Linked DNA regions of Homo sapiens: region 2 is reported to be linked to region 1. Evidence: microRNA targets listed by miRTarBase, many of them from high-throughput screens and not tested one by one. Region 1 holds a microRNA gene; the other region holds the end of a gene's coding sequence.
What was found. The annotated mature microRNA hsa-miR-5197-3p reads AAGAAGAGACUGAGUCAUCGAAU and lies in region 1 at 8,958-8,980, opposite strand. An mRNA with a match to its seed (bases 2 to 7 or 8) in the 3' UTR can be bound and repressed. Matches are read on the target gene's strand: a 7mer-m8 pairs with bases 2 to 8, a 7mer-A1 pairs with bases 2 to 7 and ends in A, and an 8mer does both.

Region 2: the mRNA of AIFM2 is a reported target of hsa-miR-5197-3p. Seed matches in the 3' UTR shown: 7mer-m8 at 1,836-1,842 and 7mer-A1 at 2,641-2,647.

Annotation. Positions count from the first base shown.
Region 1 is chr5:143,671,472-143,688,902 of GRCh38, reverse strand. MIR5197 (microRNA 5197) reads right to left here and starts at 9,043; the gene lies at 8,932-9,043. LOC105378210 (a long non-coding RNA gene) reads right to left here. Exons shown (of 3, transcript XR_944377.3): 3 at 12,494-16,324.
Region 2 is chr10:70,101,495-70,115,009 of GRCh38, reverse strand. AIFM2 (AIF family member 2) reads left to right here. Exons shown (of 9, transcript NM_032797.6): 8 at 1-90; 9 at 681-2,739. The coding sequence ends at 832. It overlaps MACROH2A2 (macroH2A.2 histone), which reads right to left. Exons shown (of 9, transcript NM_018649.3): 8 at 5,803-5,977; 9 at 2,728-3,492. The coding sequence ends at 3,327. Among named protein-coding and RNA genes, the nearest start is that of AIFM2, 25 kb to the left of the region's middle. RefSeq lists an enhancer at 7,445-7,524.

The DNA.
Region 1 (17,431 bases):
AATTACATTAAACATTAAAGGACTGAACAATTAAAAGGCAGAGATTTTCAAAATGGATAAGTGCAACATGACAACATGCTGCCTGTAAGAGATATGCTTTAAATATAAAGACAGATATGGGCTGAAAGTAAATGGATGAAAGAAGATGTTGTACTCAAACTGTACACATAAGAAAGTTGGAGTGGCTGTGTTATTATTTTAATGTGTAAATTTTAACTCAAAGAATGACTACAAGACATCACTCAAGAATGGCATAGATTTCTCATGTTTTCCTAAGGTTAGGAAATGTTTCCCTATCTTGGATTTTTCCACCCCTATTCTATTATCTTTAACATTTTACATTTTTTTAGCATTATGTGGTATACTGTGCCCTTTCACAGACCTTATAATAAAGGTAAAGCAGAAATTACCCCCATTTTAGAAATGAGAAAACTATGCAGAGACCAATGAATTAATTATTCCCAGAGAAACATTAGGTCAAAGAATCTCATTTGAAACCCAGTCTGTGGATATATACTGCCTTCCACTTTATTATGCTACGTCTTTCCTCTTCTGCAATGAAATTTTCCTATTGATAACTGTATTTCTCAGGAAGGCCTAGTTACTGGGAGAAAATTGATTGTAGGTAGAATGACATTAGAGACAGAGTCTATACCTACAAGCCATATGCTTAGGTGGAAGAATGTTAGAGACCCCTAATCTCATCGATTATGCTGAATTTTTTATTCTCTCAAGAAAATTCACAATATTTAATTAAGGAAAAGAGGAAATAATCTATAAGCAGGGCCTCTCTCAGGAAGGAGGTAAAGCTATCAAGGACCTATCCCAGGAAAGCTGCTTTGGCCCACACATTCAATACCATCTAATACCCATCTGTTTGGGGTGGACTTTGAGGAATTTTAAAAGAATTTTACTGTAAATTATCTTGTATTTACACAAAGAATAAATTTGTTTCTTCTATTTCATTCTTTGTTACTTCAAGCTGGAATACACAGAAGAATTGGGGGATATTCTATGCAGCAATTTGGCTTAACATGCTGAGCACTCAAATATTAAAAGAGAAATGGATAACAGTAGATATCACATCTGAGCTGGCCACTCACTCTGTTTACATGACTCAATGCTATTTGGTTAGGCAGATGGAGGAAGATGGTTGCAGAGGGGATGAGTTTATTGTAATTTCAATAAATTAAAGTTTGAATGTTTTCATATTTTTCCACAACTCTTTTTTTATTTTTATTTTATTATTATTATACTTTAAGATTTAGGGTACATGTGCACAATGTGCAGGTTAGTTACATATGTATACATGTGCCATGCTGGTGTGCTGCAGCCATTAACTTGTCATTTAGCATTAGGTATATCTCCTAAAGCTATCCCTCCCCGCTCCCCCTACCCCACAACCGTCCCCAGAGTGTGATGTTCCCCTTCCTGTGTCCATGTGTTCTCATTGTTCAATTCCCACCTATGAGTGAGAATATGCAGTGTTTGCTTTTTTGTTCTTGGGATAGTTTACTGAGAATGATGATTTCCAATTTCATCCATGTCCTACAAAGGACATGAACTCATCATTTTTTATGGCTGCATAGTATTCCATGGTGTATATGTGCCACATTTTCTTAATCCAGTCTATCATTGTTGGACATTTGGGTTGGTTCCAAGTCTTTGGTATTGTGAATAGTGCTGCAATAAACATACGTGTGCATGTGTCTATAGCAGCATGATTTATAGTCCTTTGGGTATATACCCAGTAATGGGATGGCTGGGTCAAATGGTATTTCTAGTTCTAGATCCCTGAGGAATCGCCACACTGACTTCCACAATGGTTGAAGTAGTTTACAGTCTCACCAACAGTGTAAAAGTGTTCCTATTTCTCCACATCCTCTCCAGCACCTGTTGTTTCCTGACTTTTTAATGATTGCCATTCTAACTGGTGTGAGATGGTATCTCATTGTGGTTTTGATTTGCATTTCTCTGATGGCCAGTGATGGTGAGCATTTTTTCATGTGTCTTTTGGCTGCATAAATGTCTTCTTTTGAGAAGTGTCTGTTCATATCCTTTGCCCACTTTTTGATGGGGTTGTTTGTTTTTTTCTTGTAAATTTCTTTGAGTTCATTGTAGATTCTGGATATTAGCCCTTTGTCAGATGAGTAGGTTGCAAAAATTTTCTCTCATTTTGTAGGTTGCCTGTTCACTCTGATGGTAGTTTCTTTTGCTGTGCAGAAGCTCTTTAGTTTAATTAGATCCCATTTGTCAATCTTGGCTTTTGTTGCCACTGCTTTTGGTGTTTTAGACATGAAGTCCTTGCCCATGCCTATGTCCTGAATGGTAATGCCTAGGTTTTCTTCTAGGGTTTTTATGGTTTTAGGTCTAACATTTAAGTCTTTAATCCATCATGAATTAATTTTTGTATAAGGTGTAAGGAAGGGATCCAGTTTCAGCTTTCTACATATGGCTAGCCAGTTTTCCCAGCACCATTTATCAAATAGGGAATCCTTTCCCCATTGCTTGTTTTTGTCAGGTTTGTCAAAGATCAGATAGTTGTAGATATGCGGCGTTATTTCTGAGGGCTCTGTTCTGTTCCATTGATCTATATCTCTGTTTTCTACAACTCTTAAGATATTTAGGTAACCAAAATAGAATTAGCTAACACTGATCAAGAGAAGAAAACATGCAGGCTTGAAGTTTTTCATTCACAATCTACAGAGGAAGATTTATGTAGTCTAGTGGAGCATTTGACTAGATCATTTTTAAGGTCGCTTTTGATTCTCATGTCCTAGGATTTATCTAAGAGCTCCCAAGGAAAGGGGGATGATGGTGATTCACACATTTTGTCTGGTCCCTTTTATATGCCAGGTGTTCTACCCATGACTTTATGTTTATGACTTAATTTAACCCTCAAATCAGCTTAGTGATGCGGATGGTATTATGACCATTTTAGGGAGGAGGAAATTGAGCCTTCCCAAGGTAAGACAGTAAGTGGTAGAGCCAAGCTATGAACCCAGATCTACCCAACTCCAAAGCCCATCCTCCTCCTACTCCTCTAAGTCAATTCGTTCCTCTTCTCTTTTAGAATATATAGTCCTTATCGGCCACCTGATATTTGTGATTTAGAGAACCCCAGCATTGCATGTTAACTACCTTGATGGTGTTGTAAGAAAGGTTCAGGGGCATTTCAGAATTTTCATCAAAAGAAACATCATTTGATGCCCTGGGTGTCAAAGTTGTGGGTACCAAGTTTGTGAAGTATGCCTTTCTTCATGCAGATTGCCTTCCAAGAGAGGGCAGTCTATGCTTCCAGATAGTCAGGGCCCTGAGTTGTTTAATCCTTGCAATATCCAGCACAGTGATAGAATCAATAAATATTGGAATGAAAATAAGCTAGGCATAGAAAGGAATTGTTTGATCAGTGGCGGACTAAATTAAAGTCCTGTTGAATAGAGCACATTTTCCAGACTTTCCATAACACAAGTTGAAAATCTTGGCCCCACTGTTTTCATCTAGCACAGAGGAAATCACTTCTATTTGTGCAAATGGAAAATGTTTCTGTCTGAATAGTTGACAGATGTTGCTTTAGGCCAATGGTTCTCATCTCCATAAAACCTAAAGTCCTCTTTGTATATATAAAAGGTAATAACAGTTTCTTTACAATCCTACACAGAAATTTATAGATTATATAACCAATACAAAATTTTTAAAATAAGTACTCTATATATAATATGAAAGAGAGATAAAAGTAATTTGTAATAAAATAACACATTTCATCAGTAAAATCCTCAGGCATGACAACACTAGAAGACAGTTTTTAAAAGACACAGTTTAGGTTGGGCACGGTGGCTCATGCCTGTAATCCCAACACTTTGGGAGGCCAAGGCGGGTGGATCATGAGGTCAGGAGTTCAAAGCCAGCTTGGCCAAGATGGTGAAACCCTGTCTCTACTAAAAATACAAAAATTAGCCGGGTGTGGTGGCATGCACCTGTAATCCCAACTACTTGGGAGACTGAGGCAGGAAAATCGCTTGAACCTGGGAGGTGGAGGTTGCAGTGAGCTGAGATCACGCCACTGCACTTCAGCCTGGGTGACAGAGCAAGACTCCATCTCAAAAAAAAAAAAAAAAAAAGACACAGTTTATTACCATGGATATTGCTATTACTAATACTAATAGTATTACCATGAATGCACAGCCCAATGCAGATGGATGCAGGTGTGTTACATTGGACACTTGAAAACCTCTTATTGCATTGCTGTCCATGATGTGATTTTTTTTCCCCCAAATGATGAAAACCTCTTGGTAAAGTTCCAAACAAATCAAATACAATCTCCTTTGATTTATAAAGTAGTTGCATTCCTGAAAAATTTAGACTATATTAAACCTGTATACAATATTTTTTATTATGTCTGAAAGAGTTAAGTTTGAGACTCTAGGATGCCTGCTGGGACAGTTCTTTGTTGTATAAAACTATCCTATCTAGCCTCCCTGAGGCCCACTCACTAAATGCCAGTCACATCACTTCAATCATTCAGACTAGCAAAAATGCCACCACAATTTTTTTCTTTTTTTTTGAGACGGAGTCTTGCTCTGTTGCCCAGGCTGGAGTGCAGCAGCATGATCTCGGCTCACTGCAAGCTCTGCCTCCTGGGTTCATGCCATTCTCCTGTCTCAGCCTCCTGAGTAGCTGGGACTACAGTTGCCCACCACGACACCCAGCTAATTTTTTTGTATTTTTAGTAGAGACGGGGTTTCACCATGTTAGCCAGGATGGTCTCGATCTCCTGACCTCGTGATCCGCCCATGTCGGCCTCCCAAAGTGCTGGGATTACAGGCGTGAGCCACCGTGCCCAGCCCACAAATTTTTAAAGCATCTCTGAGGAGGTGTAATCAACCTCCTTGAGAATCACTGCTCTGTGTAGCCAAGTGAGGTCCTGAAAAGCTATGTGAAACTTGAATTTTCTTACTGGAATCTAAATTTTCATATATTAAGTTTACTTAAAGTGAGGTGCATTCTTAAAAAAGACAAAATGGATTTTGTGGCATGAACAAAGGTGTTCCTCATTCACTATAGGTAATGTTCTTTGCTCACCCTAGGCAGTAACAAAAGACACTACTGACTGATGCAACTCAAGTAAGGAGAATGCAGAGTTATCTTATGTGTGTACAGACAGCTGATAAACAAAGAGCAGGTGGACTACAAATATGATAAAGATGCACTGGCATAGGTTCAGGCATCTGTGTATTCAGCTGACTCAAAGACTAGGCAAAAGCCTTTGGCCGTCTCACAGGTTGTTGGGGTCAATTCAGGAAAAAGGTGAGCTCAGGGAAAGATGAATGTCAATAGTTGCTAAAAGTTTATTATGGAAACAAAGGATATGAGTCAGGGTAGAGTGTGGATAAGTAAATGTAAATGAAGGGTTAAACATGCTAGTGATGTCACAGTCAGCCCAGGTGAAGCTATCTAGTAAATATCGCTTCATGAATTACATTCTCTTGGATCTGGATTTTGACCCGGAGGAGCCACTGGTGGATGACACAGAACTATATTCCGCCCCTGCCCCCCTATCCTGGAGTGGTAGCAATGAGTTATGATTGGGATCATAATATTGGGAACACTGTTCCCAAGACACCTTCTCCTTCCTTTAAATCTCTGGAAAGCCAGCTCACTTCAGCTGTGTGAGGCAAACATCTGTTCACCATATTGCATTGGTCATAGTGGAGTCTGTTCATCTGTCTCTTTGGGAGAAGAAATGGTGGGCGTGATTCCACACAGATATCTTGGCAGGCTGATAAAGACCACCTTCCAAGCTCCCCAAGCTGGAGCCTTCCCTAAAACTAGCCATGCACAGCTCAGTCTTGCTGTAGTTTGCATGCCTGCAGCAGATTCCCTTCTTTAAGAAGTCTCTGCAAATCAGGCCCAGACAGACTCCATCGCCTATTCACCTAAAGTTCACTAGGCAATGTGCCTGGTGTCATTTGAGCAAGCTGCTTGGCAGCCAATTTTTTTTTAATGATATGATTGCCCAGGCTTTCAAATCCCATTATGAAACTGTTTATCCTTTAATCAGAGCTTTAAAAAAAAATTGACATTTTAGTTTGATGGAAAGAGATGTTGAGGAGAAATATTTGGAAAATTGCTCTATGGGGCCAGATGATGCAGTGAGTCACAATCACTGAACATATTTTGCAGGGAGGAGGTCTGTGGTTGTCCCCATTCTTCCCTGTCCCAGAGCTCTTAATGACAGGCAGTCACTGGCTATTAAGGAAATCAATCCTACCATGGATAGGAAGAAGGTAGAACTAATTCCCAGGACAGCTATGAGATTCATTAGAAGAGTTATTAGGAAGAGAGGCCCACCCAGGCCCTGCCTTAGGGCCCCCTCCACCCTAGTGACAGAAAACAAGGAGGCCCCTAGCTATGTCCTACGTTGCATTCCAAACCCTGCATTGATGCAGCTTGTCTGTTATTGGAAACAGTTACCAGCCAACAGCAGAGTGTTATGCCTGCTGCTTCACTACAGCCACACATAACTTCAGGGCTGCAATATGATCTGCTTCACACAGAGGGAAGGGAGTATGTAGTACATTATACGTACCCAAAGTCAAAACAGGGGACTCAGGATTGGCTTTAAGAGAAACAGTTACATATTTCCATAAACATTCTCTGAGCTGCTCTCAGCTGTTGGGTTTTCTCACATCCACTTATCTAGAGAAAGCTTTGGGTGATACCACAGCATGGCACCCTTGTCCCCTCAAAAGCCCACACACATTTGACTGACTAGGAGAAGTGGGTGTAGGACCCTGGGGCATTTAGCCTCATAAGAACAAGAAAGTTATTTTTTATCACAGCTGAGACCTGGCATCTAGTGTGATGCCTGGCACATAGTAGGAATGAATGAATATAGATGGCACACAATCACTGAATGAGCCATCCCTCCCTCCCCAACCTCTTCCTCTCCCTGTCTTCCCCATTCCACTGCCTCCCACCTTTATTTCTTCAAAAGCAGGGGAAAAATCAGAGTATAAGATCTGGTCATGAAACAGAAAGAGTCAATGTTAGGTGACTAAGAGATAGAAGCAATGTCTGTGTTAGTTAAGAATATGAACTTGGGGATGGGCGCGGTGGCTCACGCCTTTGGGAAGCTGGGGCAGGTGGATCACGAGGTCAGGAGTTCGAGACCAGCCTGATCAACATGGTGAAAGCCTGTCTCTACTAAAAATACAAAAATTAGCCGGGCATGGTGGCATGCACCTGTAATCCCAGCTACTCAAGAGGCTGAGACAGGAGAATCACTTGAACTCGGGGGGCGGAGGTTCCAGTGAGCTGAGATTGCACCACTGCACTCCAGCCTGGGTAACAGAGCAAAACTTCATCTCAAAAAAAAAGAATATGAACTTGGGAGTCAGGTAAACTTAAATTTAACTTTTATCCTTTGCCACTTGTTAGTTGAATGACCTTAAACAAATTACTTACTAGTCCAAGCTTATTTTCTCATTTAGAAAGTGGGTCTAATAATAGTACCTACCTCATATACTTGTGATAAGGATTAGAGATAATGCCTGAAAGTACTTGGCACGCTACTTCAGACTTTAGTATTCAATAAGTGTTAGCTGCTTTTGTTATCTTTCCATATGCTCATTAATACTATGTGGGAATCAACCCAACTAAGCGACCACAGACAGACCTGCATCCCTCTGAGAAAAACTCCTACCTCATCCATCTCTGAAGCAACTGAAGTCTCTAGAATTATTCTTGGTACAGATTTGACCATTTATTAGCTTGGTTTCCATGGTTACATTAGCCAACCTTTGGGCTTTCGCGTCTTCATTGTAAACAAAGATGGCCACTCTATGTACACACCAAGATAATCACATGTGAAAATGATTGTAAAGAGTCCTAAGAGCAAATATGAGTTTTCAGTTTATGCTCTTGTCTAGAGAGCTAATATTTTAGGATTAGGTTAGGGAGTGGGAAGGAATATAAACATCTGGGAGCACTGTGTAATGTGTATCCAAAGACATTTATCCCAACATCACTGACTCATACACATCAATGAATTGAAGGGTTTGTCATTCATAACAATTATGCCAACCATTCTAGCTGCGTATAATCAGTAAACCTGTTTTCTTTGGAAAGCTGAAGAAGTCACATGGTCTCCATTTTCATTCCAGTGATGTTCCATGGTGGTTTTAAAAATTCAGGGGCTAGGGTTAGATAATTTAAAAAAGGCCCAGCACGGTGGCTTGTGCCTGTAATCCCAGCACCATGGGAGGCCAAGCCAGGTGGATTACCCGAGGTCAGGAGTTCCAGACAAGCCTGGGAAACATGGTAAAACCCTGTCTCTACTGAACATACAAAAAATTAGCCAGGCATGGTGGTACACACATGTAGTATTAGCTACTTGGGAGGCTGAGGTGGGAGGATCACTTGAACCCGGGAGGCAGAGGTTGCAGTGAGCCAAGATTATACCACTGCACTCCAGTGAGACTCTATCTCAAAAAAAAAAAAAAAAAAAAAGAGAGAGAGAGAATTAAAAACAAAAAAAACCTCAGGCTATATTTCTACCAGTGGACAGTCATTTTTCTCATACACAGTAAAGCAGTGTATATATAAAACAAAGTAACATGAATGGAAATGAAATAGCCAAGAAGGGAAAAGGGAATAGTGGATACAATCATCTTCATAGTTCAATTAATATTCTACCATGCCAAGAATTTTGCATATATTATCTCAACTCTTGCCTGTAAGTAGATACCATCATCTCCATGTTACACAGGAAGAAGAAATTAAGGCTTACAGAGGTTAAGTAATTTGGCCAAGGTCACAGACCTGTGAAGTGCAGAACACTGCCCTCTTTTAATGTCTGCTTTTCTTGTTTTGTTTTCTTGGATGGTTGAGTGGAACTGGCCACTCTGAGTTACCCTCTGTGTTGACAGAACATGAGGTGAAGTGACATTTAGAGCATTCGATGACTCAGTCTCTTCTTGAACTGGCAAAAATTCAAGAATGAGTTTGTGCCATTGATACTCATTGTCTGTGGAATCCCATACAGTTCTTCCCTAGCTGTAGATCAGGGTCAATCTGCAGTGACAGAACATTCTACTTCTCTAACATACCATCAGTTTTCTCTTATCACTGTAATGATCTGTTGGGTGACCTTCCATCAATCAGTCTGCTGTTCAGTTTCCTTCATTGTCATTTATGAAGCGTATCCTATAAGTAAAGCCCATTTATACTGGGCACATAGGAGACAGAAAAGTGAAAGAGATTATCCCTGCCTCCCCACGAGAAACTACTCTAGTGGAATTGACATGAATAACTAGGTAGGTAGAGAGAAATAGATGGATGAGGAGACTATGACAAATATGAGAATAAAGGCTAGAATAGTTTGCTATACAAGCAGGAAAGGGAGGGTGCTAGCTTGAAGGTGGGGATCTGAAAAGCCATCTTGAAGAGGCAGAATTTGATCTGGGCTTTGAAAGAAGGATGAGGGGCAAATCTTGGAGAAGGGTCGTGCTACCAAGCAGACAGGACTGTCTTGATTATCCAGCTCATAGATGGCCATCTTGTCCTCTTTTTCACTGGGCTCAGGAATAGTCTGAGCTGCTTTCTCCATACTGCAGCCCAAGGGATCACCACCAATTCTACATAACTGGTTGGTATAAGGAATGAATCCTCTTGACCATCCCTGATTTACCCCTATAGTGGCTCTGCAGGAAGGAATGTTAAGCCAAGTAATCGGGGAATTGTTGTATCCCACAGACCTGAGTAGATGACTATTTGGATTTAGAGAGGGTCTTTCAATAAAAATAAAGTACACAACAAATATAAGTACCTACTTATAGACATGTCCTTGGAACCTCTTACCTCATTCCTTACCTCTCTCTCATCTATGCTTCTCATGGTACTTTATTTAACAGAGACATTTGTTATTCACCTACTTTGTGCAGGGCTCTTTGCTAGGTATCATACAAAGATGTATAAAATATGCCATCTGTTCTCGAGGAACCATCAATTTATGGAAGTATAAGACCTACATTCAGAAAACTATACAAGTCCATATAATCAGAAGGTCATGTGCATTGGCATTTTGAAGTTCTACACTCTCCCATCTCTATAAAGTAACTGGCTTGAAAAAAACAATCTGCCTCCAAAATGTAGGGTATGGTCTCAGGAGAAAGTGACTCACACAAAAAGATGATGACTTTTTGTTCTTCTGCTGTCTCAGAATTTTTCTATCTGTATGATTCCACATTCAAATTCAAGTTTTGAGATGAATACCCAGTTCCCTTTGTATTGGGTGACATTCTATGCTATTAATCTCAATTGATAATTTTATCTGTGTAATGGCTTCTAAGTATGAAAAAAACAAAAAAATTCCTCTCCGATATTAAAGTTGGGAACCAAATAGAATAAATGTTTTACATCTGACCCAAGCATGTAGTGGAAAAATACAGAACCTGTATTTTCAAATCATTTAAATGAAACATGAAATTGAAACAGAAAGTCAATAACCAAATTAATCATCTTATTACAAAGAAAATGTAACCTGCTTCATTACTGTAATGGCAAACATCAATAGAGTAGAAAATTGACCAGTTTTCTTACATTAGAAAAAAATCTGATTCCTGGTTGCCTAGGAAGCTCTACTCATATTAGTCTTTATTGCATCTTCTGTAATGAATTAAAGCCTGTAAGGTCTCATTAGCACATTACTAATGTAAGTTTTAAAAGCCATATTAAATAACATAAAATGTTACAGTATGAATGTTGTGAGGCTGAGTGTTAAGAGAACAAATTTACATTTTACTATTTTGAAAGTGAACCCATTTGGTTTTGAAGATATTCAACAGCACATGTAAAATAACCAAGAACTTTATCCAAATTAAATAGCAAGTTGGAAATAAGGGATGTAAGTCTAAGAGGGAAATGTTCACCTTTTATATCTAAAGCAAGTCTTCCCAGATAAACCACTTGGCTGATCAAATCATGGGTCAAGAAGTTTGATCCTTGCTCCATCAAATTGGATTACAATTAAGGTTCTAATGTGTCAAAAACATATTTTAAAATATATTCCTTTTCATACAATATGTTATCTTCATACTCACTCACAGAATTTTAAGATCTTAAAGTGGCATAAATTAAAAGTAATAACAAAAGCTAAGAAAAAAATAACATGGGAAAAGAAAAGGAGTACTCAACAATAAGAGCAAGCTTGGAGGTGCACAGCACATTCCCTCAGACCCTTTCTATTAAAATGGAATGTGCCGCCACAGCATTCCAGTCCCTTTTCCAACCTATAATTAATGTTCGTCTTATTTGTGGTGTGAAACTAAAAATGTTCTGAGAGGTGATATACAGGCATTTCAGAGGGTAGCAGAGGCGGCAGCCAATGCTGTGAAGAGAATGCGAGAACACTACCACGACGCCATCATTTTCTTGCCTGTTCTCACCAAAGTGTTTCAAGCAGAGCCAGCTCCCAACAGGCAGGTATTAGAGACTATAGAGGTGCATTTTGGATGGGAAAGAGGTACTATATGTATATATGTGTATGGCAGATGTTGAGTAGCCTGTGTTAACTCTCTTCTTTTCATTTGTTTCAGCCCTTGAATGTTTTATTATAATTAATGTGTTCATTTTCTGTACTCATGCCCAGAGCATGTTGCAATAGGCATAATTTTAAAAATTGGAGAAATCCATTAAATAAATAATTAGTTTAAGGTGATAAAATACATTAAATGATTGAGAACAACTAGTACCAGCTCTGAATAAAGCAATTTTTTAAGAAAAAAGACACACTTTTAGAATTCCAACTTCAGAGTACTACTCTATTTGTCTAAAAATACAAGGTTGGCACCAAGCCCAGAAAGGTGGCAAGTGGAGCTTTGATAGACCAGGACAGACAGGAGATTCCAGAGCCGAAAGATCCCTGGTCAACATGCCCTGCCTTCAGTTGTCCAAGATCTAAATGGAGGATCTATTAGCAGAGACCCAGAGTGCATTTCAGCTGTCACCATTTGTGTATACAGAGACAGCTTAATTTTAGCAAGGAGGATGACTTAGTACCTGATGCTTTCAACCTCTGGTACCAAGGGATTTTAGATAGAATTCAAGTTGAGAGGATAAATGAAAAAATGTCTTTTTGTGGTTGGGATGGGGTAAATGTGTGCATGAGTGACTGATATAGGTATATGATAGCTATTGTTCACTAATATTAAAAGCTTGGGGAATTGGTTTCTCATAAATCTCCGAGTCATATATAGAATGCTGAAATGTACATATCCCCTTATCCATCTATAATTAAGTGGGCCTAAGTTTTACCCAATAGCTAATCATGGATTACTATAACCATTCATTTGAAACACTTTGTCTTCATAGCTAAGTATGTCTTCCTATACATCCTTGCCCATGCCCTGAATTGGGTAATAAGGGTCTTTTGTAAGGCCTTTTTGTGGTCTTAGACTTTGTGTAAAGGTGTTTTGTGGGTTCCTCTGGATCCTTTTTTTTTTTTTTTGTCTTCCAGAAGTCTCTTTCCATAAAAGCAAATTTGTCAGTTACAAAAAAAAAATGAGATTAAATAGAATAGTGTTTGTAAATGTATGTGTAAATGCAACATAAATGTCGATCATTTGATGCAGATCAAAATTGGCATACTAATCTAAAAGTACACAAAAAGTGTATTTCACTGTTTAAGTCTTATCAATTTAAGTTTGTACTCAGAGTTTCTAATATTGGCTAATTTCAGATTTTGCATCTTCAGATTCTCATGACTACAGTTACACTTAATGCATTTCAAGGGAAACAGAAATTTTTTTTCTCTTCTTCAAATGATTTGTTTTTCCTTATTTATCGGGATAGAATGTAAGATAGATTAATTCAAAAAAAAGCTCTCTAGTATCTGTTGACAATTTTTAAAATAATGCTAATTGCCACAGAGAGGGTCTTCTTATTTAAGTTATCATATGACCTTGGACCCCAAAACTACTTCTTTATCCATAAATTGTAATAGAAACATCCTCCCTTTTTTCTTTTCCCAAATAATGTGACATTCAGTCTTTCACTGGTCATGAAACATTTTTGAAATATGCCAAGTGTTATATAAATGTAAGGTAGTATTATCCATTGCTAATCCTGTTTTAAGGACTTTCATGTGTTCAGAGGTTTTACTAAGTGTTATCATGTCATATTTTCTCAGTGGCTCTGTTTCAGTAAAAAAGCACTAGATCTAAATGTAACTGAATTAATTAAAGCTTGGTTTTTGCTTGTTTGGTTAGTAGAATTTACCCATATTATATCTGTGCACACGTTCTCTGTGCCTATCCTCTTTTCCATCTGCTTCATATCCCTTGGACTTCACAAAAGAAAGGATGGAAATGATAAAAAGAGGCCACAGACAAGTTTATTGGGATTTTTTTGGTGGTGGGGGGAGGTGACAAATTTTCAAAATCTCCAATCCTGTTTCAGTTTCTCCTAGAAACAGCTGGAAAAATGACAACCCTATTCATTAAGTACAAAGTTAATCAACTAAGTGTCTGGCCTCCCAGCAATAGAGGAAACCCCAAACAGAGGTAACACTAGAGCAATGCAGGTCCAGCTGCTTGGTCTTCATTAGGAGGGCTTGGTTTTTTCCCATGTTTTCCCATGTTGTTGAGTATGGGAGTAAGAAAATGCTTGTCCTTAGCGAATACTTTAAGAGCAATTGTTCTGAATACAGAATGAGGAAACTGGAGTTTAAACTTTGCAGAGCCATTGCTAAGAACATCTCCTTCCTAATGATGCCTTTCTTTACAGAGCCTCATAGAGTTCATACAGCTCTTCACAGAGTTGGCTTCAAAAGTGGTCCCAGAGATGAATGGGCAAGCCACTGTTGCCAAGCCTGCTGAGAATCTGAGATGTCAAAGTGAAGTGGCTTTATAAAAGACACTTGTTTCTGCTTAGGTTCTAAAGCATCTAAAAGAGGAAAGAAAAGTTACCATTTAAAGCCAGAAACTTGACTGCCTTCTTTTTGCAGGCTAGGGGAAAGCAGAATCCACCTCAGGAGAAAAAGCTTTGTATTCAGGAAAATGCCTTGCTGGAACTATTTAGGTGTGCAATGTGAGCTGCTGCCTCTTCCCAGGCATCATATTTCTCAAAGGAGAAACAAAAACAGCAATATCAGTGCACTTAACATAATAGGAGAGAAATTTGGGAATGAGGACCCTGCAAAAGACAAAGAGGGAAATCACAAGAAAGACCAGGAAAATAAAAGGAGACAGATCTGGGAGGAGAGACAGCAACAAGGAGCTGCCAGAGGCAGCTGGTGGACCAACCATTGGCTGCGTGTCACCCTCGGCCACTCCTTTATTCACAACAGCCTTGGGGGGAAGTGGAAGGAATTCAGGGACAAGTTTGGGAAAGAAAGTATGCCACCCTTCTACTCTCACAGAAATACTGACAAAGCACTGTGGAAACATTAAGAACCAACCAACTAGCCCTTTCTTGGAGAGTCTGGGCTTCACCAAGAAGGTGATGGAAGGGAAGGTGCTTACCCACTTGGGCAGAAACAGCAGGCAGGGCATTTCTCTGAGGGTACAGCATATGCAAAGGCTTGGAGGTCTGAAGGGACCTGAGGAGCTTAGACAAAAAGCCAAATTGTGGTAGCTCTTTTTAATCAGGCTAAAACATGTTTTTCTTTACTGTTAAAAAGTGAGTAACTAAAGAAGGAATTTAGGCAGGAGAAAGACAAACAGATTTGTGTTGTACAAAGACAGCTCGGGTGTGTGCCTTCCAACCACTTATTTACTCAACAAATATTCACCAAGCTCTTTTGTGCTGGGGCTATGCTAGGCACTGGCGATGTGGTGATGAATTAACAGACTAATTCTCGCTTTCATGGCACTCACAGCTTGGTTAGAAGATAGATGTTATAAAATAGTCACAAAAATTAAAGTTTAATTTTAAGTGGTGGCAAATGCTATGCAAGGAGTGCTTTGATGGAGAATTAGAAGGGAGACCTAACTTTGATTGGGCCTCAGGAGGGAGTCAGTTCATTTAGGGCCACCCACCTGAAACTTGACAGATGAACACACATGAGCCAAGCTAGAAGGGATATAGGGGCTACATACCACCTGGGGAGCTAGAGGCTGAACAGTCAATCAGGAAACTATTCTGAAGGTCCAGACAGGTTCCTGAATTTTCATCTACAATTCAGGGGTTTGTCTGTGTTGGTGTTTAAAGCCACCTGTAGCTCTGAAGTTCTACAGCAAGTAAGCATCTGCTCACATTAGGCTAGGAGAGGATTAGGAAGGAAATGAAAGATATGTAAGATAGGGGTCCTCAACAAACAGTGACTGTCCAACAAATTGAGCTTTTGGTAGAGATTCAGAGAGTTTAGCTGTAGGGATGTATTAAACTTCATAGATCCTTGATAAAATTCTTACAGTACTTTTAGTTGTTTCTCACTGAAATGTTAGAACCATGTACCACTCCCCAGAACCCAACTTCTGTTTCTTAAAGTTTCTCCTCCTGTATTCCCTCTTATTTAGGGCTCTCCAGTCACAAAGTATATATGTGTATATATATTTGAAACTTACAATGTCTAATACAGAATTGAACACACACTACACATCATCATCATCATCTTTATAGTAGAGATAAAGGTGTTATTAACCAGCCAAAGAACTGCCATGTAATTGGTGACCACCAATAACATACAGGGACAGTGCCTTGCACTCAAAACTATTTGGATGGATACATGAATATACAAATGAACTCTGCTTCAAAGTGTTCAACTGAGAAACAGTACAACACCTGCCACAATCTCTCTAAGGCTGTGATACACATAAAGTGTGATTCTGTGCTGTCCTTAAGTGCTTCCACTCATGTGATAGACAAAAGGCAGGAGGTGTTCCCACTCATTCCCTACACTCTCAAAACAATTCTTGTTCTGCCCACTCAGTTTCTCTTCCCACCCCTGATAAGCTCCAAAGAGCTTCTCTCCCTGATTTTCTGGGCTTTTATATTCAGAACTGGGAGAAAATTGAGCAAAAGAGGTGAAAATAGGCTTTGGCCAGGCTTGAGGGAATGGAGCAAATTTTATTTTTGTTCTTTTCATATTTATGGGCCACTTTTTCAGTAATTTTTATACTTTTACATAATAGTATCACATCATAAATTCTACTTTCTTTATGGGGGCCATTTTAAATAAATCTTTACTTTGTTGGTTTGCTTACCTTCACATCCCCAGGAAAAGTTTATTGTCTGTCCATCTGCGCATCTGTGTGTATGCCTGTGTGTTTGTCTGTCTGTCTGTCTCCTATCTTCTTTTGGGCAGAGCAAGCTGCCAAAGAAGCTGCAGTAAGCAAGGGGAGAGGAATGGTGAGAAAAAGGGAATTTTAAGCAGGGTTACTCTAATACATGAGTCTTCTTTAGAGCATCCAAGAAAAGCAAGCAAAGGAGATCCGCTATTATGAAATTCCTCCTCGGCTATTGGACTGTTTGAACAATGAGGACACAGCTCTGAAACAGGCTAAGGGGAGACTGCTCTGATTCTCTAGGCAGTGACTGCCTTCTACTTGGTCTCCTCCTGACTGCTCTTCTACTTAGTGATGACAGATTCTAATTTCAGAAATGTAGACACAGGAGCTGAAACAGGTGCAGGCCTAGACTCATGGAGAGAAGGTTTAGGGAGGCACATTTAAGCTCAGTGCATTTACAATTTTTCTAACAAGTGGAAGTAATCCATGAAAGAGTGTGTACCCTGCCAAAGTGTTAACAGCACTGATGAAATAGGTCTCATTGTAGGTGGCTAGGCTAAATAATACCTAAGGCCCTCACCTACACCAAAACGCCACTGATTTAGACATTCACTAAACACACATTGCATTGTATGGAGACATGTTCAACCATTGTGCAAACCCAAGATGGGGCCCTTGTCCCAACCCCACCTCAGTTCTCCAGAACCCCAAGTAACCTGGCTATTTTTCAAGCTGATTTCTCAATAATTCTGATGGGAAGAATGTACTTTTCCAGATTCCATTTTTTCCCCACATACCAAAAAGACTTGTCTAACCTGTCAGCCTATAACTACCACCAAACTCAGCATCAAGGTTTATCTTAACTTAAAAAAAAAAAAAAAAAAGACAAATACTTGTGCAGTTCAAGTGCAATACAAATAAAACTGGTTACGGGGCAGTTCAAACGATTTGGAAAAGGCTTCCTTAATATCTTGGAGAGGCAGAAGTTCTGTCAGTGACCACAAATTGAGTTCATACTACTCTTCAATACTTTGGGCATGGCAGAAAAATGTTAAAATGCAAGATTAGCCTGCCTTTGGGTGACAGTATAGCATCTGGCTCTACCCTCTGGGAGGTTCTTAATCTTCCATTATTGTCCTTTGCTGCCTCTGAAGTGGGTATTGTGGCATATGCCCTCCTTACTAGCTTTCTGTTCAGGGAAG
Region 2 (13,515 bases), not on the chromosome of region 1:
TGGCCTATCTTGCCGGCCTCCACGCCAACATCGCCGTGGCCAACATCGTCAACTCTGTGAAGCAGCGGCCTCTCCAGGCCTACAAGCCGGGTAAGAGAGGCCCCATGTGCTTTGCAGTTTTAATAGAGTTTGGGGTTAAACATGGGGAAGCCTTTTTGGGCTATCCCATACCTGGCCACTAGAACAAACTCTCCAAGCTGGTGATGGAAACATCCCCTTAGAGCTCTTTAAAAATAGGCTGGGCGCGGTGGCTCACACCTGTAACCCCAGCACTTTGGGAGGCCGAGGCGGGCAGATCACCTGAGGTCGGGAGTTCGAGACCAGCCTGACCAACATGGAGAAACCCCGTCTCTACTAAAAATACAAAATTAGCCAGGTGTGGTGGTGCATGCCTGTAATCCCAGCTACTCGGGAGGTTGAGGCAGGAGAATGGCTTGAACCCAGGAGGTGGAGGTTGCAGCGAGCCAAGATCACACCATTGCACTCCAGCCTGGGCAACAAGAGCAAAACTCTGTCTCAAAAAAACAAACAAAAAAAAATCAGGGTCTCACCCACCTTCCTAAAGCGATTTCACATTTCCGGCCCTGAGTCTGAAGGCCTCGGGAAGGATCGGCACTCTGGGAGGTGCAGCCCCAGGCGGTTCAGTGAGGTTCTGGTTGTTTCTGTGTCTCTGCTTGCAGGTGCACTGACGTTCCTCCTGTCCATGGGGAGAAATGACGGTGTGGGCCAAATCAGTGGCTTCTATGTGGGCCGGCTCATGGTTCGGCTGACCAAGAGCCGGGACCTGTTCGTCTCTACGAGCTGGAAAACCATGAGGCAGTCTCCACCTTGATGGAGAGGCCAGGCGGGAGAACTACCGCAGCAGGTGGGCGTACGGACTGCTTGGCGCATGGCACCCGCCTGGCAAGTGCTAGAACTAATGCTATTCTTCTGGAATAAGATGCCAATGATGTGGTGGCTAGAAATGCAACTTGTATAAAACAAAAATGGGAGAGAGAGAGGTATTAAACAAATACCCCCCTTAGAGGATACTTTCTGGGTTTGGAAGGTGTGCTTGCTGTGGTACTGGGTGAGCGGCTCATGTGTGCTGGCTGCATGGTGCTGGGGAGGCCACAGCCAGCCCTTCCTCTGCACCTGCCTCCTCTGGGATGTGCATGTGTGTGTACGTGCTTGTGGTCATGACGCGTGCCATTTAGAGCTCTCAGAGCAGGGCAGATTGCTGGGCTCTGGTGGCCAGTGTCTGTCTGTGAGGGCAGGAAGGAGAGCTGCACATTGAGAACAAAGGAGGGACCTGAGGTGGAGAGAGGCCCAGCACCCCAAATCTCTGCCATCACACGGTCGGGGAGCCCATACATTCTGCAACAACCAGGGACTTCACAGGAGCCTTGTTTTCAATTTGCTAACAGGTGCATAATCCCTGTGCTCCTTAAGCCTCATGGCCTTCCTACATTTCCACTTTATTTGTTTGTTTGTTTATTTATTTTTGAGACAGTCTCGCCCTGTCACCCAGGCTGGAGTGCAGTGGCACGATCTCAGCTCACTGCAACCTACGCCTTCTGGGTTCACGTGATTCTCTTGCCTTAGCCTCCCAAGTAGCTGGGACTACAGGCACGTGCCACCATGCCTGGCTAATTTTTGTATTTTTTAAATAGAGACGGGGTTTCACTGTGTTGGCCAGGCTGGTCTCGAACACCTGACCTCAGGTGATCCATTCGTCTTGGCCTCTCGAAGTGCTGGGATTCCAGGCGTGAGCCACTGCGGCCAGCACATTTCCACTTTTAGATCCTACTCCATACCACAGGTTTCATTTAAGAAGAAAGAGCTAGATAAATGTGCTCTTCTGGTTACCCCACCCTGACAGAGTGCATTTTTACACGGCTAGCAGGGGTTGAGACTGCAGCCTGGCCTGCCAGCCATTGGAGGTGTTTAAGGAAGGGCAGATAATGTGACTCTTTGCGGGGTGCCATCTGCTTACCCATTAGCGAGCAGAGGGGGTTTCTGCGGGTGACCCCCAGCATATTTCTAGGTTACTTATGGGCAGATTTGTAAGTGACAAAACTCCAGCTGATGCTGGGAATGGGGAGAGGGCCCTTGAGGGACTTTGTGGTTTTGTGCTTCTGGTTTCCTGGCCAACCCCAGGGTCACTTGTCTGGAGGCCCAGCTGGGCACTAATGTCTGCCACCGACTATGTTACAGTGTATAAATGATTCCTCTATTTGGGAGAGATCTTCCAATCCAGAGGAGCCCCTCTTGGACTGCCTGGGTTAAATCTGCATAGCAGAAGTGGTTGATGAGTTCATCTGAAGAAATTCAGGCCCCACCTCCCCACCCTGCCCCTCCCTGCTCCCTTTTGATGGTGGCCTCTGGGTACTCGGGCAGAGTCCTTGGGACACCAGCCTCTCTGGGGTTCTCAGGCCATCCCGTTGGGGCTGTCGCCCAGGCCTAAGTGAGTCGTGTGCCTCTATTGGAGGATGGCTGTTCCCCTGGTGGTTGCATCCAAGTATCTGTCTTTCTTTATGGACCACGAAGGGAAGCCCACCTTCCTGGAGGCAGGACCTTCGGCCTAAGAAACACAGGCCCTGGTGCTATCTGACCTGGGGTCCAGCGAGGTGGGAATCCCAGTGTGTGAGCGACAGGCCTTCTTCTATTGACTTACAATATTCTAGAAGGACCTACGTGTGGGGACACAGTTTTCCAAACTGAGGAAAATGTTGCAATAAAAGAATATGTTGTAAGAAAGACACTGGATCTTTTATTTTTTTCCTTTCATTTTCTTTTTCTTAAAAAAACAAAATGAAACCAAAAAAAAGCCTGAATCAAAACCTTTTTAGGAGTAGTTACAGATATTATAGGGATGGGGGCGGGGGGCACTAAAACAAAAGAGAAAAGCACCAGTGAGATGTCTTTCCCATTTTCTTCTCTCCGCCACGGAACACGCACACCAACAGAGCCCAGGCCACTTTTTGCCCTCTTCCCTTGGAAAAAGGAGGAACAGAAGATTTAAGAATTTTGAAAGGATTTTTTTCTTGTGTGAATGTGTGTAAAAGTCAATGCTATAAATCTAAAACGAGGTCTGTTTTTTTAAAAAAGTTCTAAAACAACAGGAGGAAAACACATGGAAAGAAACCCCTCGCGGAGACCTGCTTCCTTACAGATGGAGGCTCTTTTGGAGGAGAGTGTGAAGGGCAGAGGGCTCCCTGCGCCGGCAGGACCTGCCCGGCCACCCTCCACTCCCCTGCCATCACCCCTCCTCTCTCCTTTTAAAAAGCAAAACCCCACTCTTGGGACTCGGGTCGTCCTCCGATCCCTGCTGGAAAGTGCGGCGGCTACTTGGCGTCGAGCTTGGCCATCTCCTGCACGTAGATGCCGATGCTCTCGCTGTCGAAGAGCAGGAAGTACACGTTCTTCAGCGAGGACGCGCTCGAGTCATCAAAGTGGGCTGAGATGGCTTTGAGGGTCACCTGGGCCGCAGTCTGTTTGGGAAAGCAGTTTCTGTGCCAAAGCAAAAGAAGAGCCGATGTCATTTTGGTCCCTGGGACCCATGGGAGCATGAAGTGCCTTTGTTTTTACTGGGTGGGGCCTTGCTGTGTGCAGGGCTAGTCCATGCATGATCTCCTTTGACCCTAGCCAAAGGGACAGCCTGGGGGTGGCAGGTGGGGCATGTTGCCCCCACTTTATAGGTGTCACACTGACTCGGAGAGGCACAATGATTTAATTTGATTAAATTAATTTATTTGTTTTGGGATGGAGTCTCTCTCTGTTGCCCAGGCTGGAGTGCAGTGGCGCGATCTCAGCTCACTGCAACCTCCACCTCCCGGGTTCAAGCGATTCTCCTGCCTCAGCATCCCAAGCAGCTGGGACTACAAGTGCGCACCATCATGCCTGGCTAATTTTTGTATTTTTAGTAGAGACGGGGTTTCACCATGTTGGCTAGGCTGGTCTTGAACTCCTGACCTCAGGTGATCCGCCTGCCTCGGCCTCCCAAAGTGCTGGGATTACAGGTGTGAGCCACCGTGCCCTGCCAAGCACAATGATTTTAGTCAAGGTCACAGGGCTGGCCAAGTGAAGAGTGCCCTGTATTTTATTTTTTATTATACTTTTTTTAAATTAGTTTTTTTTTCAGAGGCAAAGTCTTGCTCCATCACTCAGGCTAGAGTGCAGTGGTGTGATCATAGCTCACTGCAGCTTCAAACCTCTGGGCTCAAGCTATCTGTCTTCTGCCTCAGCCTCCTCAGTAGCTGGGACTAAAGGCGTGTGCCTATAAAAAAATTTTTTTTTTTAAATTTTTTGTAGAGATGGGTCTTGTTATGTTGCCCAGGCTGGTCTCGAACTCCTGGCCTCAAATGATCCTCCTGCCTCAGCCTCCTAAAGCTTTTGGATTTACAGGCGTGAGCCACCGTGCCAGCTCCCTATATTTGATTCTATGTCACCTGACCAAGTCAAGCTTGGCTTTAAAAATGCTAGCCATTCAGCATTAAAAATACCTGGTCTTCAAACAAGCAAACAGAAGTTTTATTAGCTCCCTCCAAACTGGTTTATATACTAACCCAATTGCTTAGTAAAGGGCAAAAATGTATGCTCCAAACCTGTCTTCGTAAGTCCTTTTTTATGCACTTAATATTTCATAGGCACAGGCCCATGTAATTTCAGCATTGTGACTCCGGGCATGGCGGGGTTAATGAAAGTTTGTTAAAGGCCCCAGGTTCCAGGGAGCTACTGATAGTGCCATCCACCAGGCTGGGCCACAGCACCAGCTTCCAGGGACACAGCCAGAATGGTCGTTAGGGGTCAGCCACAGAGACCCCTGGAGCAGGTCCAGGAGGGGCCTGTTAATAGGAATTCTTCCCAATCGCATGTATTCCAGCACAGAACAGCACTGCCGTGGTTCCACCGACGAAAGAATGCATCTCACAGCATCTCTGGGCCTGGAATGCTGAGACTCAATGCTGCTTGCCTAGGTTGATGTGTGATTACAGCAGGAACCTAGGTCTCATTATTTTCCTCTTGGGCTTCCCAGGACACAGCTATAAACCATAGCTATATTATAAAGGACAGCTCTCAAGGTGAGAGGGTGTTCAAAATTAAAGCAATAGATTGGCTAGGGGCATGAAGGGAAAGGATATGTTTTATGTGACAGCAGATATCCTCATTATGTATCTGAAACAATGCCCAGCTGGGATCTGTGACAATCCAGTCATTGCCCAGTCTCCTTTTCAGCAATCACTCGGGGACAGATTTTCACTTCTCTGGGTGTATTCATCAAAGCCTCGAACTCCTGGCTCTGCAGTCTCCCAGAGCAGCAACGGAATTCTCTGGGGATTCTGGAGCCAGAGGTCGGAGATGGGGGGCCTGAGATTCTGCATTCTGACATCGGTCACTGCTGCCTATGGACCACACTTTGAGTAGCAAGGCCTTCGAGCCTGGCGTTTTCTGATCATGTGTCCTGGACATGGACAGCTGGTGGGAATATGGACTTTGAACCTGGAAGGCTCTCAAAAAATAACACACCAGCTGGCCTCTGCCTCCCGCTCCTCCCCTGGGCTAGCCTTCCTCCTGGGGCTTTAACATCAAGGAGGCACTGGGGCTGGCCCCAGCCGGGGAAGACCTGCTGCCTAGGAGCCAGTGGGCTCGCTTCCCCATGGTTTCTGAAGGATGAAAACCGGGTTTCCTGCCCTGTCATCTGGTCAGCATACTTGGCTGTGCTGGCAGCCCTTGGCAACACCCAGATCAGATGTAAGTGGGGGAGCAGCTGATTTCCAGGGAAAAAGCCGGAGGAATCAACTCAGGGGAACTGCATCTTACCTGCCGCTGGGGAAAGGCGGGAACGCGACGGACTTTAGCTTCTTGTCCTCCGCCGCTGACAGGCAGTTTTTGATGGTCTCTTCAAGCTGTTCTTCACATTTGTCGGAGCCCCACTGAGGGATGTGACAGTGGATGACAAATTTGGCTGCGAGTCCACTGGATTGGCTGACGGCGGCTGGGACATAGGAGAGAAAATGCCGCGGGTTATTTCCTAAGGTTTCCTAGGTTATAGCCTAACCTCATCAGGTACCTGTTAGATCTGGAGATAAGGCAGTGATAGAGACGTTGGCTGGGCAGCATCCTGTGCTCCTGATGTGGACTATGTTTAACGAGAGCAAGAGCTGGGCTGTATTGCTTTGCACAGTTAGCACAAGCTTTGGGTAGAAGCGTTTAATGCTGCTCTGATGCGCCATTTTCATATGGTCTGCCAAGTAGTCCCTGGGTTGGGCTACCTCCTCACAATGGTTCCTAGTTAAAGGGACACATCAGATCCTCTCTGGTGGCTGTGGCAGGTAAAGTAATGGCATCCCAAAACATCCACGTCCTCCTCCCTGAAACCTGTGGGTGTTCCCGTACATGGCAAAAAGGACTTTGCAGATGTGATTAAGTGAAGGCTCTTGAGATGGGGAGATGATCCTGGACTGTCTGGGTGAGCCTGGGACCTGATAAGAGGGAGGCAAGAAGGTCAAAGGCAGGAGAAGGCCGTGGGATGAAGGAGACAGAGATTGGAACGATGCAGCCAGGAGCCAAGGAATGTTGCAGCTTAGAAGCTGGAAAAGGCAAGGAAGGGATCCTTCCCTGAGCCTCCAGAAGGAACCAGCCCTGCCAACACCTGGATCTTAGACTCTTAAAACTCATTGTGGACTTCTGGCCTCCAGAACTGTAAGAAGACAAATTTGTGTTGTCTGAAGCCACGAACTTTGTGGTAATTTGTTACAGTAGCCACAGGAAATGAATACAGTGGCTTTTATTTTTATTTTTTTATTTTTAGTTTTTTTTTGAGACAGAGTCTTTTTCTGTCGCCCAGGCTGGAGTGCAGTGGTGCGATCTCAGCTCGCTGCAACCTCCACCTCCTGGGTTCAAGTGATTCTAGTGCCTCAGCCTCTCGAGTAGCTGGGATTACAGGCATGTGCTAATTTTTAAAATTTTTTTATAGAGATGAGGTTTTGCTATGTTGCCCAGACTGGTCTTGAACTCCAGGGCTCAAGTGATCCTCTTGCCTCAGGCACCCAAAGTGCTGGGATTACAGGCGTGAGCCATCACACCTGGCCTACTGTGGCTTTTAAAAAATAGCTGTGCCTGGGCCCCACAGAGTCAGGGTACTGACCACCCAGAGGTCCTGACTCAGTAGGTCTGGTGCAGGGGCTTATGCTTATGTGATTTTAGGACCTTCTATGAGTTGAGAACCACTGAACTTGATTGTGTAGTTCCTTGACAGGGACTGCCATTTGATGATCTCCACATGCCCTGCAGAGAGTGGGGTTTCAAAAGCGGGCTGTGAAACTGAATTAGGCCAGCCTTGTCTCACAATTTCTGTCATACTCCTTTGTTTTACTGTTTACTCCCCTAAATGTGGTTCCCATTGGTGACAGAGTTGATAAAGCCCCGTGGCTGCTAAGCTCGAGGGAAGTCCCTGTGGGACTCCCCAGGGGAGCAGTTCCCTCGGATCTGCCTGAGGCAGCTGCAGCTTCAGCCATGAGCCATGCTTGCCCCCACGCTGCCCGTCTGCGCCCTGTGCCCCTCCAGGAACCCAGGAATCGGCGTAGCAAGGGTCCGTGGCCACTAGGGGCAGCACTTGTAACAGAAACGTGTGTCCGCCGTATTCCAGAGCTGTGTGTGGGGTTGAGGTGAAAGACTGACTGGAAATCTATGATGCCCACCTAGTTTATATAAGTATTTCCTGGCAATGTCCACAGTGTCAGGGAAGTGCTGACTGCACTTCCTCACATGGGTAGAAGCCAAATCCAAGGGACCCCTTCGTCCATCAGGGGAGGCTGTAGGCTCCCTGCCTTCCAGTGCCTAGACGGGGCTCAGTGTCATCACACGTGAACGCCTGAGTGCAGGACCCAGGCCACACAATACACCGAGGCCCTGGGTAGGGGCCCGCCATGCGTGCTGACTCTACGACCACGTATATTTGTGCACCAGAAGCAGAGTGTCCCTCTTTGGACTGAACAATGATGCCCCTAAAACTGGAGGCTGCTCTGCTGAGAACCAAGGACCCTGGAGATGGGCCTTGCCTGCATGGTGCCATCTTCCCGAGCACCTGGCTGCTATTGTATGCCGGACAGAGTTTGGCTTGTTACAGTCATGGCTGATTTATTTCATATATTTTAAAAGTATAATCATGTTACTAGCAGAATGGTATTCCTCTAATGTAAAGTCTTTTTTTTTTTTTTTTTTTTGAGACAGGATGCCCCTCTGTTGCCCAGGCTGGAGTGCAGTGGCTCGATCACAGCTCACTGCAACCTCTGCCTCTCGGGTTCAAGCGATTCGATTCTCCTGCCTCAGCTTCCCAAGTGGCTGGGATTACAGGCACCCGCCACCATGCCCGGCTAATTTTTTGTATTTTTAGTAGAGATGGGGTTTCACCATGTTGGCCAGGTTGGTCTTGAACTCCTGACCTCAAGTGATCCACCCACCTCGGCCTCCCAAAGTGCTAGGATTATACTGCACCCAGCCAAAAGTCATTTTTAAATAAAAGGAATATGTTCCTATTGGCAATGTCAAACATCCAATCAAGTAAAAAATGACTTTCAGGGTAGTGCACGATGACATTTCAGTCCAAAACAAAGTATGTTCATGGCAACTGGAAATGAATAACACAGCTTGTAGCCATAATGCTTTGTAATGTTCTCCAGAGTTGTCAAGGATGAGGGTCAAGTTATTGCAAGGGCTGTGACCCTGGTATTTGGTATAAGCACCTATCCACATAATGACTAGGGGCATTCTCTTACCTAATGTGATGTTGCCTGGTGAAGACCTGCATTCTGAGGGTGGCAGTGCTGCTGCTGGGAGCTTCTAGAACCTTCCCCCAGGTGAGCCATCACAGTTCTTGGGAGTCACCACAGCAAAAGGGGACTCTAGGTTGGCCCCTTGTCCTGCTGAGAGGCTGCTACTGCTGATGCCTGGTTTCCGTGACACTGTGGGTTTTCTTTTAACAGCACCTCAGTTTCCCACAATGGCCTCTCTTCTTCCTGCGTGTCTGGGCCCAGTGCTCTTCTCTCTGCTGCAGCCCCACCTCCTAAGCAGCCATCTGCAAGCCATTTTCCTCCTTAGCTTTCAACAGGGACCTGCACCTCATGACCTTTCTGGGGCCCCAGGGCTAACACGTGCCCAGTAAAATGGCCATTCACTCCTGAAACCCGATTCCCCTTTTTCCCTCTTTGTCACTGCAGACACCATCAGTTTCCTCTGCCTTGTCTCATTTCAGGCCCATGTGCTTCATTTTCACCCCCACTCCACCCCCACCCTCATCCAATACAGCTTTCTTGATGGTCTTCGGGCCCCAGCCCTCTGTCTGCCAAACCATCCTCCACACGGTTGCTGGAGCCAAGGTCCTTAAACTCCACATTTAAACTCAGAATCTGCAACTGCTCCTGATTGCCCCCTGGCCTTACTGCAGTCCTCCCAGGCTCCCTTCATGGTCGGCCCCTCTCCCCTTGGAGTCTATCCATTTCTTGCTCTTTCTGGATGCCCAGTCGTCCTCCAGCCAGTGGGCTCAGTCCCCTGCACACATGGGTCTGGCTGCACCTCTGTCTCCACACTTGGCTATCCTCCTTTGTCCCTGACTCCCTCGCCCATTCTCTCCGGGCCTCTGCCATGCAATTCAGCAGCCAGCTGTGCTAAGTGATGTACTGTGTTACCCTGGGGTCCCCGCCTGGTTGTAAAATTCAGGAGTGTTCAGGGCCTACAATCACATCCACATCCTGATGCCTGCGCCCGACAGCACACACCGTAGATGCTTAACGTGAACTGGTTCTGCCCCAGCTGACATCTTCACTGAAGCACTTTTGTATTCCTTGCTGCTGCCTGGCTCCTGCCACAGTCACTGGCAGGCAGGTGCTCCAATATTCAACAAATGAATGAAAGTCCTGACTTTTCATCAGTTTGCTCAGCCCTGGAAACCCTGGACTTACCTTAGCTCCAGCTTCTGCCTCCCTGAACATGCAGCATCGCTGCCTCTCACTGACTCTGCACCTGAAATATTTTCTTGATCCACCCTCCCCGACCCCCTGCCACAGGGTGGGCCTGCACTGCAGTTGGTCTGTTTTAACCATGTTAAGATGCACTTTTTTTTTGTTTAAATATTTTAATATTGTTGAAATCAGGAAGCATCTTAGAACTGCTGTCAGCCTGGAGCTGAGTTCTTCCAGAAAGAAATTACATTTCCTTCTATGTCACCTGGGGACACTACCAAACTAAGGCTATGTCTCACTCTCTTCTCTGCCTCAGGTTTTGAGCTGCACTGGATCTGGCTGCAAATCTTCAGGAGCACTGGCTTGCGGTTCAAATTCTTTTTCTGTTTTTTAGACACAGAGTTTCACTCTTGCCACCCAGGCTGGAGTGCAATAGCGTGATCTCGGCTCACTGCAACCTCTGCCTTCTGGGTTCAAGTGATTCTCCTGCCTCAGCCTCCCAAGTAGCTGGGATTACAGGCACCCACCACCACGCCCAGCTAATTTTTGTATTTTTACTAGACAGGGTTTCTCCATGTTGGTCAGGCTGGTCTCAAACTCCCGACCTCAGGTGAGCCACCCGCCTCTGCCTCTCAAAGTGCTTCGATTACAGGCGTGAGCCACCATGCCTGGCCAAATTCTTTAGTGAGGCTTTTTTTTTTTTTTTCCTCTCTGTCCACTGGATGCCAAGGTCAAGATATTTGCTCCTCCTTTCTGCGTGGTGGGTTCATGTCTTGCTTGCTGTTATACTAATGTGCCCCAGCTTTATGTGGGGCCTCCTATTAGACACTTTATTTTGGAAATTTATTTTTTCTTAATGTTACATACAATAAGAGTATATCTTAACAACTGATGGTGTTTTTAAATGAAATGCAGTGTGGTGTTAGACAGTGGCGAACCATCTCCCCTTCTCCATTTTTCCCAGGGTGCTAACACTCACTGGCCCCAGGCCATGGCTTCTTACACCTAACATATTTGCACCAATGTCTTAGCTCAAAATTGTGTCCTGTAGCCCTCTCCTTCCTTCCAGGTTCATGTCTATTTCCTTGGTGCAGACTTTTGTATTCTTTCCAGCTAGTGTCTGGATTGCTGCCTCTCAACTTCTGCACGTCTGAAATTGTACATCTTTTGTCCTCATTCTTGAATGACAACGTAGCAAAATGTGGAATTCTTGGTTGACAGTTTTTTTTTTCCCTTCAGTGCTTTGAAGGTATTTCTTTCCTGTTTCCACACATCTTTTTTTTTGCTGATGAGAAGTCTGCTGTCAGTAGAAGAGCCATCATTTCTTTACAAATGATCTGCCTCTCCTCTCGGGTTACTTTGAAGGTTTCTTTTGATTTTTCAATTTCTAAGGCTTTACCACAACACTCCAGGTTTTGGATTTATTTTCATGTATTTTGCTTGATATTTTCAGCTTAAGGGCTCATGCTTCATCCTAGAAAATTCTCAGCTACGATCTCCTTAAATAATGCTTTTCTACTTTCTATTTCTGCCTTTGGAACTCTGTTTAGAAGTGTGTTGGTGCTGGGCACGGTGGCTCCCACCTGTAATCCTAGCATTTTGGGAGGCTGAGGCAGGAGGATCACTTAAGCCCAGCAGTTCAAGATCAGCCTGGGCAACACAGCAAGAACCCATCTCTATTTAAAAAATAATTTAAAAAAGAAGTGTGTTGGAGCTTCTCATTCTGTGCAGAGCAGCTATTTTTCCTCTCCTTTGCACCCTATCAGGCAGTTTCTGGGGAACCTTCCCCACACCCAGGCCCCCAGTCCTGATGCCGTCTTAGATGACTGAGTTGGGGCTTGGTCTCATGGTTATATCGGGGATGTGGTAGAGCCAAACATTGAGTCGGTGGGCAATGTGGCCCTGGGCTTGGGTGAGGGGCTCTCTTCTCCCTTCTGCTACCCTAGAAAGACAGATTTTTATAGAAGTTGTAGCCCTGGGTGGTGGCGAGAGCTTTGGCTTCTTGTAAAGGCCGCGAGAGTCTCATGCAGCCCCTTGCTTTGGGCAGTGAGTCTGGCTCTGGCCCTCTTTATACTCTGATACAAAGTGAAGCGACTCTGCATCTTATAGACCTGGAGCCGAGGCCTGGGGCGGCAGCATCCTGCAGGTGCTGCTGCAGCCCTCCTGTCTCTGTCTACATGGAGGCTTATCTTATATTTGAGTGTGGCTCTTAGGGTTTTTAAAGAGACACTGCATCTATTACTGCTTTGCCTGTGGGGAGTAGTGGGTGGAGATTTAAAGTGTGGGCTCTTGTTCTTTCTGGACTAGAAGCCCCCATTACTTTTTTCTTTTCTTCTTTTTTCTTTTTTTTTTGAGACAGAATCTTTCTCTGTTGCCCAGGCTGGAGTGCAGTGGCACGATCTTGGCTCACTGCAACCTCCACTTCCCAGGTTCAAGTGATTCTCCTGCTTCAGCCTCTGAGTAGCTTGGGATTACAGGCATGCGCCACCATGCCTGGCTAATTTTTGTATTTTTAGTAGAGACGGGGTTTCACCATGTTGGTCAAACCGGTCTTGAACTCCTGTCCTCGTGATCCGCCTGCCTCAGCCTCCCAAAGTGCTGGGATTACACGCATGAGCCACAGTACCTGGGCCCTACTTTTATAACAATCAAGTCTAATCTGGACAGCCCCCTGCTTAAACTTCCAAGTGCCCTCATGTCCATGTAGGGTCAGATCCAGACCCCTTCGCACAGCCCACAGGCCCAGACTCATCTTGGCTGCTGTTTCTCTCCTCCCACGTGCTGACCCAAGACTCCCTGCTCATGCAAGACAAGCGTCTTCTTGCATGCAGTGCTCCTATTGCCCTCTGTGTCCCACCCCCAAGGGGTCTCACAGCCTCACTGCAGTCCTCCCACGCTCCCCTACGCTGAGGTCGTGGCTCCTGCTCTGTGCCCCAATTATGCATCTGAGGGCAGCGGTGGGTTTTATTTTCCTCTGAAGCCCTGCGGCACTTGGCACTGACTGAGGGTACAAGGAGTGAACTGATTGGGAGTCATGTGGGTGGGAACATGGATCTGAGGTTGAATCCACCTGTCAAAAAGTTGCCCAATATCCTGGACAAGAGATGTTTAAAAAAAACTTGTGCACAGATGTTCACTGCAGCTCTATTCACAATCACCAAAGGCGGAAACAGCCCAAATGTCCATCAGTAAATGAACGGTTAAACAAAATGGAATATTATTCAGCCATGAAAAGGAATAAGTACTGACCCATGCTACAGTATGGATGAACTTTGAAAAAAATGTTAAGTGAGAGAAGCCAGACAGAAAAGTCATATATTGCATGATCCCATTTATATGAAATGTCCAGAATAGGCAAATCCGTAGAGACAGAAAGTAGATTAGTGCTTGCCAGGGCCTGAGGGGGGCACTGGGCATGACTGCTTAATGGTTAGGGGGTTTGTTGGGGGAAAAGCTAAGTGTTGAGAGAAGCTGAGGCAGGGCTTGCATGTCTGACGTAATGTAAAAGAGTCTTGGAACATGTCCGGGGTCCAGATTCGAAAACGCCTTGTGGCCTTTGGAACACCAAGCTCTG